Linked DNA regions of Homo sapiens. The protein of the gene in region 1 binds, or shares a complex with, the protein of each later gene. Each region holds a gene or a part of one and is shown on either strand. Other genes may lie near its edges. The genes, in order: MYO9B and RHOA.

Region 1 (9,656 bases):
AAGGAAGATAGAGATGATGGAGGGATGGATGGATGGAAAATGATAGAGGTGATGAATGGAAGACAGATATAGATGATGGATGGATGGAAGATACACATGATGGATGAAGGGATGGATAGATAGAAGACAGGTAGTAATGATGGATAGAGGCATGGATGGATGGATGATACAGATGATGGGGAGATGGATGGATAGAAGATGGGTAGAAATTAGGCTGGGCGCGATGGCTCATGCCTGTAATCCCAGCATTTTGGGAGGCCAAGAGTTTGAGAGGAGTTCGAGACCAGCCTGGCCAACATAGTGAAACCCTGTCTCTACTAAAAATACAAAAATTAGCTGGGCGTGGTGGCGCATGCTTGTAATCCCAGCTACTTGGGAGGCTGAGACAGGAGAATCGCTTGAACCTGGGAGGCAGAGGTTGCAGTGAGCCGAGATCAAGTCACTGCACTCCAGCCTGGATGACAGAGATGAGACTCCGTCTCAAAAAAAAAAAAAAAGTAGAGATTATGGATAGAAGGAAGATAGATGCCGACGATAGATGGATGGAAGGAAGATAGGTAGGTAGAGACAATGAATGGAGGGATGGAAGATAGGTAGAGATGATGGATGGCTGGGTGGGTGGATGGATGGATGGATGGACAGACAGAAGGATGGGTGGATGGCTGGAAGATAGAGATGGAGAGATGGAAGGAACATAGAGTTGATGGATGGAGGGATGGATAGATGATAGGTAGATTATGGATGGGAGGAAGATAGAGATGATGGAGGGACGGATGGGTAGAAGATAGGTAGAGCCGGGTTCGGGGGCTCACACCTATAATCCCAACACTTTGAGAGGCTGAGGCGGGTGGATCACCTGAGGTCAGGAGTTTGAGACCATCCTGGCCAACGTGGCGAAACCCCGTCTCTACTAAAAATACCAAAAATTAGCTGGATGTGTTGGCGCATGCCTCTAATCCCAGCTACTCGGGAGGCTGAGGCAGGAGAATCACTTGAACCTGGGAGGCAGAGGTTGCAGTGAGCCGAGATCACACCATTGCACTCCAGCCTGGGCAACAAGAGCAAAACTCCGTCTAAAAAAAAAAAAAAGATAGATAGAGATGACAGATGAAGAGATGGATGGAAGGCAGATAAAGAGGATGGATGGGTGGAAGATAGAGACAATGAGTCAATGAGTAGAAGGATGGATGGATGGATAGATAGATGATAGATAGATAGATAGATAGATAGATAGATAGATAGATAGATACATAGATAGATAGATGGGCAGGCAGGCAGGGTCTCTTGGGCTAAGGCAAGGTTTCCTACCCTCCACACTCAACATCTGGGGCTGGCTCACTCTCTGGGGTGGAGACCATTCTCTGTAGGGTATTGAGTAGCATCCCTGCCCTCCACTCACCAGAGGCCAGAAGTACCCACCCACTCCTTTCCCCCCACCCAAGTGGTGACAACCAAAACTGTCTCTAGACATTGCCAAGTGTCCCCTGGCAGGGGCAGAACTGCCCAAGTGAGAACCCAAGAACCACTAAGACAAGAAAATGCCACTGACTCACTCTAGTCAGTAAAAGCCATGTTTCTGTGATCTCGCAGGGAGAGGCGCACCTCCTTCTCCACGAGCGACGTCTCCAAGCTCCTCCCGTCCCTGGCCAAGGCTCAGGTAACAACAACACGGCAAAACCCCGTCTCCACTAAAAATACAAAAATCAGCCAGGCGTGGTGGCGCTTGCCTGTAACCCCAGCTACTCAGGAGGCTGAGGCGAGAGAATCGCTTGAACGCAGTGGCAGGGTAGAGGTTGTAGTGAGCCTCGCGAGACCAGGCCACTGCACTCCAGCCTGGGCAACTAGAGTGAGACTCCGTTTCAAAAAAAAAAAAAGCAGGAAGTGAGGTCGGTGGATGGAGTGTAAATGCCTGCAGGGGCTTCCCCATCTAGCACAGGACTGCCAGCCTTTCCTTAGCAGCCCCCCACTGCACCGTCTTGCAGCCTGCAGCAGAAACCACGGACGGAGAGCGAAGTGCGAAAAAGCCAGCTGTCCAGAAGAAGAAGCCAGGCGACGCATCCTCCCTCCCAGACGCAGGGCTGTCCCCGGGCTCTCAGGTCGACTCTAAGTAAGTATTGGGCTTGGGGGAAACTCAGGCCACCAGAGGATGCCCGGGGTCCCTGCCAGGGCCTCGCAGCAGTGTGGCCTCCTAAACCAATCACGTTTACAAAGCACGTTCGCAAAGGCATTTGCTCAGTAGAAACTGAATGGGGAGGCCAGGCAGTGGCTCACGCCTATAATCCCAGCACTTTGGGATGCCGAGACGGGTGGATCACTTGAGGTCAGGAGTTGGAGACCAACCAGGCCAACATGGTGAAACCCCATCTCTACTAAAAATACAAAAATTAGTTGGGCATGATGGCAGGCACCTATAATCCCAGCCACTCGGGAGGCTGAGGCAGGAGAATCGCTTGAACTCGGGAGGTGGAGGTTGCAGTGAGCTGAGATCATGCCACTGCACTCCAGCCTGGGTGACAGAGGGAGACTCCGTCTCAAAAAAAAAAAAAAAAAAAAAAAGCCTCTAGGGCAGGATCCTTCCTGCCTCTTCTGGCTTTTGGGGGCTCCAGGTGTTCCTTGGCTTGTGGCTCCATCACTCTAATCTCTGTCTCTATCGGCACTTGGCCTTCCCCTCAGTGTCTGTGTCTTCTGTCTTCTGTCCCTTAAAAGGACACGTGGCTGAATGGATGCAGTAGGTCACGCCTGTAATCTCAACACTTTGGGAGGCCAAGGTGGGATGATCACTTGAAGCCAGGAGTTCAAGATCAGCCTGGGCAGCGTGGCAAAATCTTGTCTCTGCAAAAAAATTTCAAAAATTAGCCAGGCAGGGCGGTGCATGCCTGTAGTCCCAGCTACTCAGGAGGCTGAAACAGGAGGATCCCTTGAGGCCAAGAGATCAAGCCTGCAGTGAACTGTGATCATACCACTGCACTCCAGCCTGGGCAAGAGAATGACACTCTGTCTCAAAAAAACTTTTTTTTTAACTTAAAAAGATAATGAGCTAGGCGCATGGCTTGTACCTATAATCCCAACAACTCAGGAGGCTGAGGTGAGAGGATCATGCTCGTGAGGCCAGGAGTTTGAGGCTGTAGCGAGCTATGATCACACCACTGCACTCCAGACTGAGTCACACCCCAACTGGAACAAAAAGAAAAGAAAATGGAGTCCCCCTGTGGCTTCTGTTTGGTATCCTTCTTTCTTCACATAACTCCCCTGCCAGTACAAAGAAAGGGCTATTGCTCTTTATAAGATAATCCTGTGTTGTTTTTTTGTTTGTTTTTTTTTTGAGACAGAATCTTGCTCTGTTGCCCAGTCTGGCAGTCTGGAGTGCAATGGCTCAATCTCCGCTCACTGCAGCCTCCACCTCTCAGGCTCAAGCGATTCTCCTGCCTCAGCCTCCCAAGTAGCTGGGAGTACAGGTGTGCACCACCATGCCCAGCTAATTTTTTTTTCTTTTTTTTTCTTTTTTTTTTTTTTTGTATTTTTGGTACAGAAGGGGTTTCGCTATGTTGCCCAGCCTGGTCTCAAACTCCTGGGCTCAGCTGATCCACCCACCTCAGCCTGCCAAAGTGCTGAGATTACATAGGCGTGAGCCACCATACCCAGCCAGATCCATTTTTGTTTTTGTTTTTTGTTTTTTTTTTTGAGACAGAGTCTCACTCTGTCACCCAGGCTGGAGTGCAATGGTGCGATCTCAGCTCACTGCAACCTGCAACCTCCACCTCCTGGGTTCAAGCAATTCTCCTGCCTCAACCTCCCAAGTAGCTGGGACTACAGGAACCCACCATCACGCCCTGCTATTTTTTTGTATTTGTAATAGAGACAGGGTTTTGCCATGTTGGCCAGGCTGGTCTCAAACTCCTGACCTCAGATGATCCACCCGCCTGGATCTCCCAAAGTGCTGGGATTACAGGCATAAGCCACCATGCCAGGCCAGATCCTTTTTTGAGTCAGGCATTGATAGAGCATTTGCCATGTGTCCAGTCACAGGGAGGCTGGGCCTCACGTCCATTTTCATTTCAGACTTAAAAGAAGCCACGTACTTTCTCCTGCAGATCCACGTTTAAGAGGCTTTTTCTGCATAAAACCAAGGATAAAAAATACAGCCTGGAGGGCGCAGAGGAGCTGGAGAATGCAGTGTCCGGGCACGTGGTGCTGGAAGCCACCACCATGAAGAAGGGCCTGGAAGGTTGGTAGCCTGCAGCCTCAGGGACAGACAGTAGAGCCACCAGTGCCCCTGGGGACATTCACTGTCCCCAAACGGGGCCTTGAGTTGGCTGTGGGCCAAGCCCTAGGCACAGAGCCAGGGGTTTCTGGCCCTGGATAAAGGCGTGCCATAGGAGGTCCCCTGCATCCTCCCCCTGAACCCACCCTCACCGGCTGCTTCCTGTCCCCCCTCAGCCCCCTCCGGACAGCAGCATCGCCACGCTGCAGGTGAGAAGCGCACCAAGGAACCAGGAGGCAAAGGGAAGAAGAACCGAAATGTCAAGATTGGGAAGATCACAGTGTCAGAGAAGTGGCGGGAATCGGTGTTCCGCCAGATCACCAACGCCAATGAGCTCAAGTACCTGGACGAGTTCCTGCTCAACAAGGTGGGATCACTAGGCGAGGGCCAGGGGCATGAGGCCCGGTCCCCAGGGGAACCATCACAGCCAGGCATTGTTTTCTGAAACACACAACACAGGGTTTAGCAGGTCAAGAATACAAAGTCCAGGCTCAGGCCGGGGACAGTGGTTCATGTTTGTCATCCCAGCACTCTGGGAGGCTGAGACAGGAGAATCACTTGGGCCCAGCAGTTCAAAACCAGCCTGGGCAACAGAGAGACCCCATCTCTACAAAAGGTTTAAATATTAGCTGGAGTGGTGGTGCACACCTGTAGTCCCAGCTCCTGGGGGCTGAGGCAGGAAGATCGCTTGAGCCCAAGAGGTCGAGGCACCACAAGCCACGATCGCAGCACTGCACTCCAGCCTGGGTGACAGAGCAAGACCCTGGCTCAAAAAAAATAATAATGCATATTTGGTCTCAAAGCAAAGATTGATGAAGCACTGTGTGCAACAGAAGTGGAGGCGAACAAGCTGTGGCTGCCCTCAGGAGGGTTATACCCCGTGGGGGTGGGGGGTGGGCAATCCTGCAGCAGATAGAGCTACATTTGGGAGCTGCACAGCGGGCACAGGGGGCCGATGGGGACACAGAAGGATCAGGAAACCCTGCTAGGAGTAGAGGCATCTTGAAATTACCAGGCCATTCCAGGCATCCCCATCCTAAGGTATGGCTGGGTGTTGAGCCCCTGTGTGGGGCAGCAGGAAGGGCCTGAACTGACCTGTAGCTCTCATCTAGGGGGGATTCTGTCCGCCAGGGAACACTGGCAATGTCTGGGGACATTGGGGTTATCACAGCCTCAGGGGAGGGCGCTGTTGGCATCTGGTGGGTGGAGGCCAGGGATGCTGCTTAACCTGCTGTGGTACACAGGGCAGGCCCCAATGTGGAGAGTAGTCCTGCCCTCAATGTCAGTGGCTTTAACTCTGGGTTGACAAGATGAGAGACCAGGCTTGGCCAGAGGGACTGGATTTTATCCCGAGAGCCTAGGGGATGACTTAAGAGAGGATAGAAGTGACCCCTTGGGCACCTCCTCGGGTACGCAGGTCCCCAGGCCTGAGGCACGCAGGGTCAGTTCCTCTCCCCTTCCAGATAAATGACCTCCGTTCCCAGAAGACGCCCATTGAGAGCTTGTTTATCGAAGCCACCGAGAAGTTCAGGAGCAACATCAAAACGATGTACTCTGTCCCGGTATGTGGCGGCCCGGCCTTCAGCCTTTCCCATACCCTGCTCAGACCCGTCATTCCCATCCGCCCCTTGCCCAGGCCTGCAGGGTGACGCCTAGCATTCCTACAGAACGGGAAGATCCACGTGGGCTACAAGGATCTGATGGAGAACTACCAGATCGTCGTCAGCAACCTGGCCACTGAGCGTGGCCAGAAGGACACCAACCTGGTCCTCAACCTCTTCCAGTCACTGCTAGATGAGTTCACCCGTGGCTACACCAAGAACGACTTCGAGCCAGTGAAGGTGGGCAGCCCAGCATGCCACGCCCACCTGTGACATGCCACGCCTACCCATGCCTCGCCATCCTTAGCCACGCCCACCCATGCCTCACCATGCTTATGCCACACCCACCCATGCCCTGCCCATACCACAGCCACTGTGCCATGACTTGATCCACTTATGCCATGCTTACCTGTGCCTCACCATGATCACTTATGCCACACCCACCTGACATGCCACACCCACCCATGCCATGCCACGCCTATGACATGCAACATGCTATGCCTACCCATCCCTTGCCATGATTACATGCCATGCCCACCTATACCATGCCGTGCCCATTTGTGCCACACCTACCTCCTGGTGGGGAGCCCTGCACCCTCCCCAACAGAGCCTCACTTCTGGGTCTGGGGTGTCTGAATGGGGGCGTTAGGGACAATGATGCCACTCCAGGTGAGGGAGGGTTCAGGGTACCCACACGCCTGAGTTATGGGGTGCCAGGGGTGGGTTGGGGCTCTTCCCAGGGGGGCCCCCGCCAACCTCCTCCTTGTGTTCCTCACAGCAGAGCAAAGCTCAGAAGAAGAAGCGGAAGCAGGAGCGTGCTGTGAGTAGGCTGCACATAGATGAGAGTCCGAGCAGGCGAACATTGGCAGGAGCATGCACGTGTGTGTCAGTGTCAATGTGCGCATGGGCCCGTCTGCACGCGTATGTGTGCGTGGACACGTGTGAGTGTGTTTTTCCCCCGGCATATACGGAGCCGTAGTCTTGAATAAGTCACCCCTGAGATCCCATGGGTCGTCATCCACCAGTGGCTGGGGAGGGCTGCCTTCCCCTTTCCCTGCCCAGCGCCTTCCTCTGGCCTCACAGGTCCAGGAGCACAACGGGCACGTGTTCGCCAGCTACCAGGTTAGCATCCCGCAGTCGTGCGAGCAGTGCCTCTCCTATATCTGGCTCATGGACAAGGCCCTGCTCTGCAGCGGTGAGTGGCTCCCCCACCAGGCCCCAAAACCCTCCATGTCCCCCACCACCCCTCACTGCTCAAGAGGTCTTCAGGGCCAGGCGGGGTGGCTCACACCTGTAATCCCAGCACTTTGGGAGGCCGAGGCAGGTGGATAACGAGGTCAGGAGTTTGAGACCAGCCTGGCCAAGATGGTGAAACCTCATCACTACTAAAAATACAAAAATTATCTGGGCACAGTAGTGGGCACCTGTAATCCCAGCTACTCGGGAGGCTGAGGCAGGAGAATCACTTGAACCTGGGAGGCGAAGGTTGCAGTGAGTCGAGATCGCGCCACTGCACCCTAACCTGGGCAACAGAGCAAGACTCTGTCTCAAAAAAAAAAAAAAAAAGGTCTTCACCCCAGCCCAGCCACCAGGTCAGATCTTTCTGGACCGTTGTCCCAGCCATATCCCACCCCCTCAAACCGTCCACCATCACCGGAGGAGCAGAGCCCAATTCTCAGCTGGCCCCAAGGCCCCCAGTAGCCAGCACCCACCCACATCTGCAGCCTCCTCTCCTCGTGGGCCCTGCCTCTCTGTCTCTGTACACGCTGCTCCACCGCCTGAACCATCGGCCCCTCCTTCCCCAGGCTCCTCACGGTCCCTCCCCTGTAGGCCAGACTCAGCCCCAGGGGACCCTAAGAGACAGGGCCCAGGAATGACCCAGCTGATCCATGCTCACACAGCTTTGATATGGCCAAGTCAGTACCCAAGCCCAGGCAGCCTCCAGAGGCCCAGCAGGGTCAAGAGGGCCTCTCCTACATGTGTTTTTCTGCCAGAACCATTTGGGCCAGGGTCTTTTCAGCCCAGAAGGCAGCCCCACCACCCCACATCTGTCCAACAGTCAGTTGTCATGGTCCTGAGATAAGGATGCGGGACCCAGGCCCGTCCCCTCACCTGATTCCATCCTTGCCAGGTGCCAGACACTCTCTTCTTTAGCGTAACCAGTGTACCCTCTGCAAGGCGTCAGCTGGGTGGCCTGGGATTCAGTGTGGTTGGAAGAAGGAAAAGCAGCATTGTCTTTGCCCCGTGACATCTTCGTCCCAAGTCCCCAAGGCCACCTCCTGGCAGGACCTTTAGACCTTTAGTTCTGCCAGTAGGTGGCCTTGGGGACTTGGGGCAAGGATGTCACAGGTCCCCACAAACACCTGCTCATGGTTCCGCTAGCCAGGCTGGGTCTGAGGCCATGAATGGCCACCTTGGAGCTATGAAGTTTGTCCACACAGCCTCCTCTCTCAGGAGTCAGGGCACAGGTTCCTGCAGTGTGGGTTTAGAAGTTGGCAGGCCAGGCACAGTGGCTCACACCTGTAATCCCAGCACTTTGGGAGGCTGGGGCGGGAGGGTCGCTTGAACTCAGGAGTTCTAAATCAACCTGGGCAACATGGCAAGACCCCATCTATACAAAAAAAAATACAGAAATTAGCCAGGCACGGTGGTGCACGCCTGTAGTGCCAGCTACTTGGGAGGATCACCTGGGCCTGGGAGGTCAAGGCTCCAGTGAGCTATGATAGTGCCACTGCACTCTAGCCTGGGTGACAGAGTGAGACCCTGTCTCAAAAAGAAAAAGAGAAACCAAAAAGAAGGCAATCCAGGCCAGGTGCAGTGGCTTACGCCTCTAATCCCAACACTTTGGGAGGCCGAGGTGGGCAGATCACCTGAGGTCGGTAGTTCGAGACCAGCCTGACCAGCATGGAGAAACCCTGTCGCTACTAAAAATACAAAATTAGCCAGGCGTGGTGGCGCACACCTGTAATCCCAGCTACTCGGGAGGCCGAGGCAGGAGAATCACTTGAACCCGGGAGGCGGAGGTTGCAGTGAGCCGAGATCACGCCATTGCGCTCTAGCCTGAGAACAAGAGTGAGACTCCATCTCAAAAAAAAAAAAAAAAGAAGGCAATTGGCGGCCCCCGGCCAGCTGGGTGGGTGGCTGCAGGAATCTGGGGTCCCCAGCACCCTCTGTGACTCCCACCCTGTGGACCTCCTAGTGTGCAAGATGACCTGCCACAAGAAGTGCGTGCACAAGATTCAGAGCCACTGCTCCTACACCTACGGGAGGAAGGTGAGTGTACGAGGCCTGGAACTTTCTACAATGACACTCCACTCACGGCCAGGTGCACCAGGAGGTGGTGCTTGATGTGAGGGCCAAGCGAAGCATTGAGCAGCCAGTAGGGGGCGGCTGTGGCCTCTGGTTCTGCAGAACACACCATTGTCCCCGGTTCTGTACAAACTCCTTGAGGCCCTCAGGCAGGGCCCAGGCCTGTGTGTGTGTCTCAGCTCCCCCAGCCCTGCTCATCCTTGCTCCTGAGAGAGTCCTGAGCCATGCAGAGGGAGGCCCCCCAACTCTGTGCATAAGGTTGGGGTCCTGGGTGCTGGGGGTGCAGCAAGAGTCAGGGTCTACTTCTGTGAGGTGGCTGTGGGGGCTAGGTTATAGCTCTCTCCCCACGAAGGACCACCCATGCCTTGGGTGGCCTACAAAGGAAGCCCCTGCCCAGTGGCTGCCATGCTGGCCTTGACTTCTGCAGCCCCACACCCCCAACAACCACGCAGAAGGAGACAGGGAGGGACAGAACAGCAGAGGAA
Region 2 (9,656 bases), on another chromosome or scaffold:
CTTGGTGGCAGGCACCTGTAATCCCAGCTCCTCGGGAGGCTGAGATAGGAGAATTGCTTGAACTCAGGAGGCGGAGGTTGTTGTAAACCAAGATCATGCCATTGCACTCCAACCTGGGTGATAGAGGGAGACTCTGTCTCTAGACAAACAAACAAAAACAAAGTAAGAAAGGAGAAAGGGGATGAATGGAAGCTAATATATCAAGTGTTAGCAGCATATGAGACATATAACTGAATGCTCAAGAAAAATGAGAATGTTGGAGAAGAGCACCTCATTCTAGTTTTAGGGGTTTTTTCCTTTCAGCTGACCCACTTCAAAAGATGTATAGGAGAGCTGGGCACGCTGGCTTGCGCCTGTAAGCCCAGCCACTTGGGGCTGAGATGGAAGAACTTGAGCCCAGTTGTTTGAAACCAGCTGGACCAACACAAGACCTCATCTCTAAAAACATAAATTACCCAGGTGTGGTGGCACATACCTACAGTGCCAGCTATTTGGGAGGCTGAGGTGGAAGGATCACTTGAGCCCAAGAGTTCAAGGCTGCATGATCATGTCACAGCACTGCAGGCCTGGGAGACAAAGTACAATCCCTGTCTCTTTATTTAAGAGAAAAAAAAAAAAGTATGAGAGGCCAAGCAAAGCATTACTTAGACAACAAAAGGAAGCAGAAGATTAAAAAAAAAAACAAAAACAAACCAAAACCAAAATTAAAACCCAAAAAAACCCTCCAATTTCACAAGAGCTTTGTTCCAGTCTTGCCAGAGGGCTTTTAGGACAGAAATGGGGAAGCACTGTTCTCACCATCAATGACAATAAAATAAAACAACTGTGGCAGGCTATTTTATGTTAAAGTAAAAAAAAATCTTTTGGCCGGGCACAGTGGCTCATGCCTGTAATCCCAGCACTTTGGGAGGCCGAGACGGGCAGATCACAAGATCAGGAGATCGAGACCATCCTGGCTAACACGGTGAAACCCCGTCTCTACTAAAAATACAAAAAATTAGCCAGTCTGGTGGTGGACACCTGTAGTCCCAGCTACTTGGGAGGATGAGGCAGGAGAACAGCGTGAACCCAGGAGGCAGAGCTTGAACTAGTAATCTAATACTGGGACATCTGATTAAATACTTTGACAGAATTTTTGTCAAAGTCCAAGCATACAAAGAAGTTCATCTGAGCATTATCTATATGGCAATGAACTAAACTTCAAATATACGTAAACTTGAAAAGAGCACATATGGCTGGGCAAGGTGGCTCACGCCTGTAATCCCAGCACTTTGGGAGGCTGAGGCAGGTGGATCATCTGAGGTCAGGAGCTTGAGACCAGCCTGGCCAACATGGCAAAATTGCATCTTTACAAAATACAAGTATTAGCCAGGCATGGCGGCGTGCGCCTGTAATCCCAGCTACTCTACTCTGGAGGCTGAGGCAAAAGAATTGCTTGAACCCGGGAGGTGGAGGTTGCAGCGAGCTGAGATTGTACCACTGCACTCCAGCCTGGGCGACAGAGCGAGACTCTGTCTCAAACAACAAAACAAAACAAAAAAAAAACACATATGCTAAGGACACCATGTCAAATACATATGAATGTAAACAAAGTCTGGATGAGTAGCAGTTAAAAATGAAAAAACAGCCAATCACCTGCGGTCAGGAGTTCATGACCAGCCTGGCCAACGTAGTGAAACCCCATTTCTACTAAAAATACAAAAATCAGCCAGGTGTGGTGGCATATTCCCGTAATCCCAGCTACTGGGGAGGCTGAGGCAGGAGAATCCTTTAAACCTGGGGGAAGGCTGGGCACAGTGGCTCACTCCTGTAATCCCAGCACTTTGGGAGGCTGAGGTGGGTGGATCACCCGAGGTCAGAAGTTTGAGACCAGCCTGGTGAAACCCCATCTCTACTAAACGAAAAATGAGCTCAGCATGGTGGCAACATGCCTGTAATCCCTGCTATTTGGGAGGCTGAGGCAGGAGAATCACTTGAACCTGGGAGGCAGAGGTTGCAGTGAGCCAAGACCGAGCCACTGCACTCTAGCCTGGGCAACAGAATGAGACTCCGTCTCCAAAAAAAAAAAAAGAACAAACTTGGACTAAGATGGCAGGATGAGAATGGATTCTTCTTTCCAACATTTTTGTTATATGGTATACTGAAGAGGCAAAAAGCTCTAATTCTCTACATGCTCCATAAATATTCTAACATGGAAAATGGCATCAGTTGTTATGAAAAGTATACTCACCTGCTTTCCATCCACCTCGATATCTGCCACATAGTTCTCAAACACTGTGGGCACATACACCTCTGGGAACTGGTCCTTGCTGAAGACTATGAGCAAGCATGTCTTTCCACAGGCTCCATCACCAACAATCACCAGTTTCTTCCGGATGGCAGCCATTGCTGAAACACAAAACACAGATATTACCTGCAATGCACAAGAAGTCATAGGTAGCTTACAGGATGACACATGCTTTGGTAACCATGGGGCATAAACCTCTATTAGCATACTCAAATTCAAACTTCTAGTACGCCGATCCACCTGGCACCAAAAGGTTATACATTAAAAACTCGTAACTAACATTATACTTAATGGTAAAAGACTGAAAAAAAGGTCTGCCCCCTAAGATCAGGAACAAGACAAGAATGTCTGTTCTTGCCACTTCTTTTTTTTTTTGAGACGGAGTCTCACTCTGTCGCCCAGGCTGGAGTGCACTGGCCCAATCTCAGTTCACTGCAACCTCCAGCCTCCCGGGTTCAAGCAATTCTCCTGCCTCAGACTCCCAAGTAGCTGGGATTACAGGCACGTACCACCACATCCAGCTAATTTTTGATAGAGATGGGGTTTCACCTTGTTGGCCAGGCTGGTCTTGAACTCCTGACCTCAGGTGATCCACCTGCCTCAGCCTCCCAAAGTGCTGGGATTACAGGCGTGAGCCACCACGCCTGGCCTGTTCTTGCTACTTCTATCCAGCAGGATACTGGAGGTCCTAGCCAGGGCAATAAGGTAAGAAAATGAAATAAAAGACATCCAAATTGGAAAGGAAGAAGTAAAACTATCTCAATTCACACATGAGATGATTTTGTAATGTGGGAAATCCTAAAGAAAACTTTTAGAATAAACAAGTTCAGTAAGGTTGCAGGATACAATATTAACATTAAAAAATCAATTGAGCCAGGCGCAGTGGCTCACGCCTATAATCCCAGCACTTTGGGAGGCCGAGGCGGGTGGATCACGAGGTCAGGAGATCGAGACCATCCTGGCTAACACGGAGAAACCCCATCTCTACTAAAAATACAAATAACTAGCCGGGCATGGTGGCAGGCACCTGTAGTCCCAGCTACTTGGGAGGCTGAGGCAGGAGAATGGCGTGAACCCAGGAGACAGAGCTTGCAGTGAGCCAAGATCGGGCCACTGCACACCAGCCTGGGGGACAGAGTAAGACTCCATCTCACAAAAAAAAAAAAAAAAAAAAAGGAAACAATTTGTCAAGCAGGGTAAAAACAATGAAAGGACTGATGAAAGGGAGTACCCAAGGGAGGAAAGAACCAAAAAAGTCATCGGCAGGTTGTTTGGGTAGACATTCTGCAATCTTTCTAAGTTTGGATATTCCTTCTTTTACCAATCTAGATTTGTTTGTAAAGAAACAGCATTCTTGGCTGGGCGCGGTGGCTCACGCCTATAATCCCAGCATTTTGGGAGGCCGAGGCAGGCAGATCACCTGAGGTCAGGAGTTTGAGACCAGCCTGGCCAACATGGAGAAACCCCATCTCTACCAAAAATACAAAATTAGCCAGGCGTGGTGGCACATGCCTATAATCCTAGCTACACAGGAGCAAGAGGCAGGAGAATCGCTTGAACCCGGGAGGCAGAGGTTGTGGTGAGCCGAGATCATGCCATTGCACTCCAGCCTGGGCAACAAGAGCGAAACTCCGTCTCAAAAAAGAAAAATCAATTGAGGCCGAGCACAGTGGTTCATGTCTGTAATCCCAACACTTTGGGAGACTGAAGCAGGAGGAATGCTCAGGCCCAGGAGTTAAGAGACCAGCCCTGACAACATAGTGAGACACTGAGAAAGGAAGGACGGACGGAAGCATGAGAGGGGAGGGGAGAAAGAAAAGGGCCGGGCGCAGTGGCTCACGCCTATAATCCCAGCAATCTGGGAGGCCGAAACAGGTGGACTGCTTGAGAGTCCAGGAGTTCAAGACGAGCCTGGGAAACATAGTGAAACCCTGTCTCTACTAAAAATACAAAAAATTAGCCAGGAGCGGTGGTGCATGCTAATCACAGTTACTTGGGAGGCTCAGGTGGGATAATCCCCTGAGCCCTGGAGGTGGAAGCTGCAGTGAGCTGAGATTGCATCACTACACTCCAGCCTGGGGAACCCCAGTGAGACACTGTCTCTAAAAAAAGAAGGAAAAGAAAAAAAAAAAAATCAGCCAGTTGTGGTAGCATGCACCTGTAGTCCCAGCTACCAAGGAGGCTGAGGTGGGAGGATTGCTTGAGCCCAGGAGGTGGAGGATGTGGTGAGCTATGATTGCATCACTGCACTCCAGCCTGGGTGACAGAGTGGAACCTTGTCTCAAACTCTTATGACTCAACTACAAAAAAGCAGCTTAGGTTGGTGGTCTGGCTCAGGATCTCTTGCAAGGTTGAAATCATAAAGAACTCTTTTTGGGCTGGGCACGGTAGCTCACACCTGTAATCCCAGCACTTTGGGAGGCTGAGGCAAGCAGAACACTTGAGGTCAGGAGTTCGAGACCAGCCTGACCAACCCAGCAAAACCCCGTTTCTACAAAAAATTCAAAACTTAGCCGGGTGTGGTGGTGGGCACCTGTAATCCCAGTTACTCGGGAGACTGAGGCAGGAGAATCGCTTGAACCCAGGAGGCAGAAGTTGCAGTGAGCCCAGATTGTACCACTGCACTCCAGCCTGGGCAACAGAGCACTCCAGCCTGGGCAACAGAGTGAAACTGTGTCTTAAAAAAAAAAAAAAAAAAAAAGAGAGAACTCCTTCTGACATGAAGTACGCTATTTATCTATCCATCTATCTTTTTTTTTTTTTTTTTTTTTTTTGAGATGAGGTCTCACTCTGTCACCCAGGCTGGAATGCAGTGGCGTGATCTTGGCTCAATGCAATCTCCACCTCCGAGGCTCAAGTGATCCTCCCACTTCAAATTCCCCAGCAGCTGGGACCACAGGCATGCGCCACCACGCCCAGCTAATTTTTGTATTTTTGGCAGAGACAGGGTTTTGCCATGTTTCCCAGGCTGGTCTCCAACTCCTGAGCTCAAGTGATCTACTCGCCTCGGCCTCCCACAGTGCTGAGGGATTACAGGCGTGAGCCACTGCCCATCTATCTACGCATCTATCCAATCTATGTACCTATCTAACCTATCTATGTGTTTCTCTATTATGTAGTTATTTTCAGAAAGGGTCTCATTCTGTCACCAAGGCTGGAATGCAGTGGTGCAATATTGGCTCACTGCAGCCTCTGCCTCCCAGGCTCAACTCAAGCGATCCTCCCACCTCAACCTCTCCAGTAGCTGGGACTACCAGGCTCCTGCCACCACAGCTGACTAATTTTTATACAGATAGCGTTTCACTATATTACCCAGGCTGGTCTCAAACTCCTGGGCTCATGCAATCCTCCCGATTCAGCCTCCCAAAGTGCTGGGATTACAAGCATAAGCCACCTCCCCAGGCCTAAATACAGTATATAGAAAAAATTAAAAAATAAAGAACTCTTACAATTCAATAATAAAAAGACAAATAATCTAATCCAATTAAAAAATGAGCAAAGGATGTGAGTAGGTATGACCCTGCAATTCTATTCCTAGGTATATATCTAAGAGAAACAAAAACATATGTCCACATAACAACTTGTACCTCTACATGAATATTCATAGCAGGATTATTCATAATATATTGTCAAAAAATGTAAAGAACCCAAATATCCAACAACTGATGAATATAATATATCCATACAATGGAATGGAATATTATTCAGCGATAAAGGATAAAGTACTGATATATGCTATAGTATGGATAGATCTTGGAAATGTTATATAAGTGAAAGAACCCAGTCACAAAAACCAACATGCATGATTCCATTTATATAAAATTGTCCAGAATAAACAAATTCAGAAAGAGAAAATAGACTGGTAGTTGCCTAGGGCAGGGACTTGGGGGTGGAGAGAAATGGAAAATGACTAATGGAATACTGGAGTTTCTCAGGTAAAAAGATTTTTCCAAAATTATTGTGGTGATGGCTGCACAACTCTATGAATATACTATAAACTATTGATTATAGTATATATAATTCACACATTTTATTTATTTTGAGACAGGGTCTCACTCTGTTGCCCAGGCTGGAGTATAGTGGTGCGATCTCCACTCACTGCAACCTTAGCCTCCCCAGGCTCAAGTGAACCTCCAATCTCAGTCTCCCAAGTAGCTGGAACTAAAGGTGCATGCCACCACACCCGGCTAATTTTTTGTATTTTTAGTAGTGACCGGGTTTCACCACGTTGCCCCAGCTGCTCTCAAACTCCTGAGGTCAAGCGATCCTCCTGCCTGTCTCTCCCAGTGTGTTGGGATTACAGGCGTGAGCCACCGCACCCAGCCCACAGTATATATAATTCACACTTTAAAAAGGTGAATTGTAAGATATGTGGATTATATTTCAATAAAGCTGTTACCACCACTCTCGCCCCCAGTGGGGGGAAAAAAGAGAGAAATCTGCAGATTCCTTCCATCTGGCAGACAGTGATGGTCAACCATCCCAATTCCCGCCCTTCCCTCCTAGACCATACTTCGATTTTTAGCTATGTACTTTGTTGTAGACTACACTTCCTAGCTTCCCTTGGAGACATGGCCATGTACCATGAGATGTGAGAATCAGCAGTATGTTGTGGGACTTCCAGAAAGTCTTTCTTAAAGGGAAGTCTTTATTATCCTCCTCCTTTCCTGCTGCTTAAATCTAAAGTAAGGGCTGGTTTCTAAGCAGCCATCCTGGTATGTGAGAATGAATGCCATACCGTGGGGCTGGAAGAACCAAAAGGTAAAAAGGAGCCTGGATCTCAGGTGATCTTGGGAGCCACCATCTCAGCCCCAAGACTGCCTACCTTCCATGTTTCTTCCATATGAATGAGAAATAAATGACTGTCTTATTTAAGGTGGTATTTTTCAAGTCTCTGTTACCTATAGTCAAACTAATCCTAAATTATATACACTCAGCTGGGCATGGTGATTCACGCCTGTAATCCCAGCACACTGGGAGGCCGAGGCGGGCAGATCACGAGGTCAGGAGTTTGAGACCAGCCTGGCCAACATATGAAACCCCATCTCTATTAAAAATATTAAAATTACCCAGGCGTGGTGGGGTGAGGCAAGAGAATCGCTTGAACCTGGGAGGTGGAGGTTGCAGTGAGCCAAGATCATGCCACTGCACTCCAGCCTGGGTGACAGAGACTCTTGTCTCAAAAATAATAATAATAATAATAATAATAATAATAATAATAATAATAATAAATACTCATTATCAAAACTATATTGTCTAAAGGGTATGTTCCCCAACCAGAATGGATAAGACAATCCACAGGGGTACCAGAAGAAAACTCAGAGGGCAAACAACGACAAAAATAAACAATGAAAACAAAACAAAAAAACTCAGAGGGCTGACAGTGCTGCCATTACTCATTTGTGAATTCTCAGGACAATATTACATACAGCAGTGAATACGTGTGTGTGTATATATATAGATACAGATATTATAGAATTTTATCCAAATCTACAAAATCTAGTAACTTTTTTTTTTTTTGCAAAAAGGGAGTAAATTGAAGATACTACTAATCATGAAAGCACAATAAGAAGCATATCGATGATAGGGAAATGTGCTCAATGCATATCTTCAAACAAGAGCATGCAGTCAAGGCTAGGAGTAATGGCTCATGCCTGTAATGCCAGCACTTTGGGAGGCTGAGGTAGGCGGATCACTTGAGGTCCAGAGTTCAAGACCAGCCTGGCCAACATTGTGAAACCCCGTCTCTACAAAAAATATAAAAATAAGTTGGACGTAGTGGCATGTACCCATAATCCCGGCTACTCGAGAGGCTGAGGCAGGAGAATCTCCTGAACTCAGGAGGCAGAGGCTGCAGTAAGCCGATATCTCGCCATTGCATTCCAGCCTGGGAAACAAGAGAAAAACCCCGTCTCAAAAAAAAAAAAAAAGTTAGCTGGGTTGGTGGCAGGCACCTGTAACCCCTGAAAGGCTACTCAGGATGCTGAGGCATGAGAATCACTTGAATTAGGCAGGCGGAGGTTGCAGTGAGCTGAGAACGCGCCACTGCACTCCAGCCTGGGCAACACAGTGAGACTCTGTCAAAAAAAAAAAAGGATTGGCATGGTGGCTCACGCCTGTAATCCCAGCACTTTGGGAGGCCGAGGCCTGTGGATCACGATGTCAGGAGTTCGAGACCAGCCTGACCAACATGGTGAAACCCCATCTCTACTAAAAATAGAAAAATTAGCCGGGCATGGTGGTCCGCACCTGTAATCTCAGCTACTCAGGAGGCTGAGGCAGGAGAATCACTTGAACCCGGGAGGAGGAAGTTGCAGTGAGCTGAGATCGTGCCACTGCACTCCAGTTTAGGCAACAAGAGCGAAAATTCGTCTCAAAAAAAAAAAAGACAGAGAGTGAAGTTCCCCAGTTAGAGTCAAGTGTGGCAACTCATGCCTGTAATCCCATCTACTCAGGAGGCTGAGGTGGGAAGACAGCTAGAGTCCAGAGTTTGAGACCAGCTTGGGCAAAATAGCAAGACCCTATCTCATAAAAATAAAAAAATATTGGCCGGGCATGGTGGCTCACACCTGTAATCCCAGCACTTTGGGAGGCTGAGGTGGGCAGATCACGAGGTAAGGAGATCGAGACCATCCTGGCTAACATAGTGAAATCCCGTCTCTACTAAAAATACAAAAAATTAGCCAGGCGTCGTGAAGGGCGCCTGTAGTTCCAGCTACTCAGGAGGCTGAGGCATGAGAATGGGGTGAACCCAGGAGGTGGAGCTTGCAGTGAGCTAAGATCGTGCCACTGCACTCCAGCCTGGGTGACAGAGAGAGACTCCGTCTCAAAAATAAATAAATAAATAAAATAAAAAAATAGACACTGGGCGTGGTGGCTCACACCTGTAATCCCAGCACTTTGGGAAGCCAAGGCAGGCAAATTGCTTGAGCCTAAGAGTTGGAGACCATCCTAAACAACACAGTGAAACCCCATCTCTACCCAAAATACAAAAAATTAGCTGGCTGTGGTGGTGCGCATCTGTGGTCACAGCTACTCAGGAGGCTAAGATGGGAGGATCACTTGAGTACAGGAGGCAGAGGTTGCAGTGAGCTGAAATCATGCCACTACACTCCAGCCTGAGTGACACAGTAAGACCCTGTCTCACCAAATAAAGATTTAATAAACTTTACATCTCTCATAAGGCCTAATCTGCATGGGCTTTTGCCCAAAGTCAAACAACCAGGACCCTATGGGATGCAAAGAAACGTCAACAGGAATTCCCCAGTTCAAGAAAAGGCTGCTTTGGCCGAGTGTGCTGGGGTTCATGCCTGCAATCCCAGTACTTTGAGAGGTGGGTGGATCACCTGAGGTCAGGAGTTCGAGACAA

Evidence for each region.
Region 2: the proteins of MYO9B (region 1) and RHOA are in contact, whole or in part, in a crystal structure (PDB 5HPY), measured with the Homo sapiens proteins. Residues at the interface, in NP_004136.2 of Homo sapiens: Glu1731, Gly1732, Arg1735, Lys1736, Ser1737, Gly1738, Ala1739, Ala1740, Arg1744, Lys1772, Gln1773, Arg1776, Arg1840, Met1841, Ala1845, Ile1848, Ile1849, Pro1852, Cys1853, Arg1856, Pro1863, Leu1864, Ser1866, Met1867, Val1870, Thr1874; in NP_001300870.1 of Homo sapiens: Asp13, Gly14, Ala15, Glu32, Tyr34, Val35, Pro36, Val38, Phe39, Gln63, Glu64, Asp65, Tyr66, Arg68, Leu69, Leu72, Asp90, Glu93, Asn94, Glu97.

Annotation. Positions count from the first base shown.
Region 1 is NC_000019.10:17,196,202-17,205,857, forward strand, and holds part of MYO9B (unconventional myosin-IXb), read left to right. Parts: intron 1-1,590; coding exon 1,591-1,657; intron 1,658-1,982; coding exon 1,983-2,107; intron 2,108-4,091; coding exon 4,092-4,225; intron 4,226-4,437; coding exon 4,438-4,628; intron 4,629-5,724; coding exon 5,725-5,823; intron 5,824-5,928; coding exon 5,929-6,102; intron 6,103-6,640; coding exon 6,641-6,682; intron 6,683-6,945; coding exon 6,946-7,057; intron 7,058-9,061; coding exon 9,062-9,135; intron 9,136-9,656. UniProt on the Homo sapiens protein: Myosins are actin-based motor molecules with ATPase activity. Unconventional myosins serve in intracellular movements. Binds actin with high affinity both in the absence and presence of ATP and its mechanochemical activity is inhibited by calcium ions.
Region 2 is NC_000003.12:49,373,204-49,382,859, forward strand, and holds part of RHOA (transforming protein RhoA isoform 1 precursor), read right to left. Parts: intron 2,389-9,656; 5' UTR 2,387-2,388; coding exon 2,231-2,386; intron 1-2,230. UniProt on the Homo sapiens protein: Small GTPase which cycles between an active GTP-bound and an inactive GDP-bound state.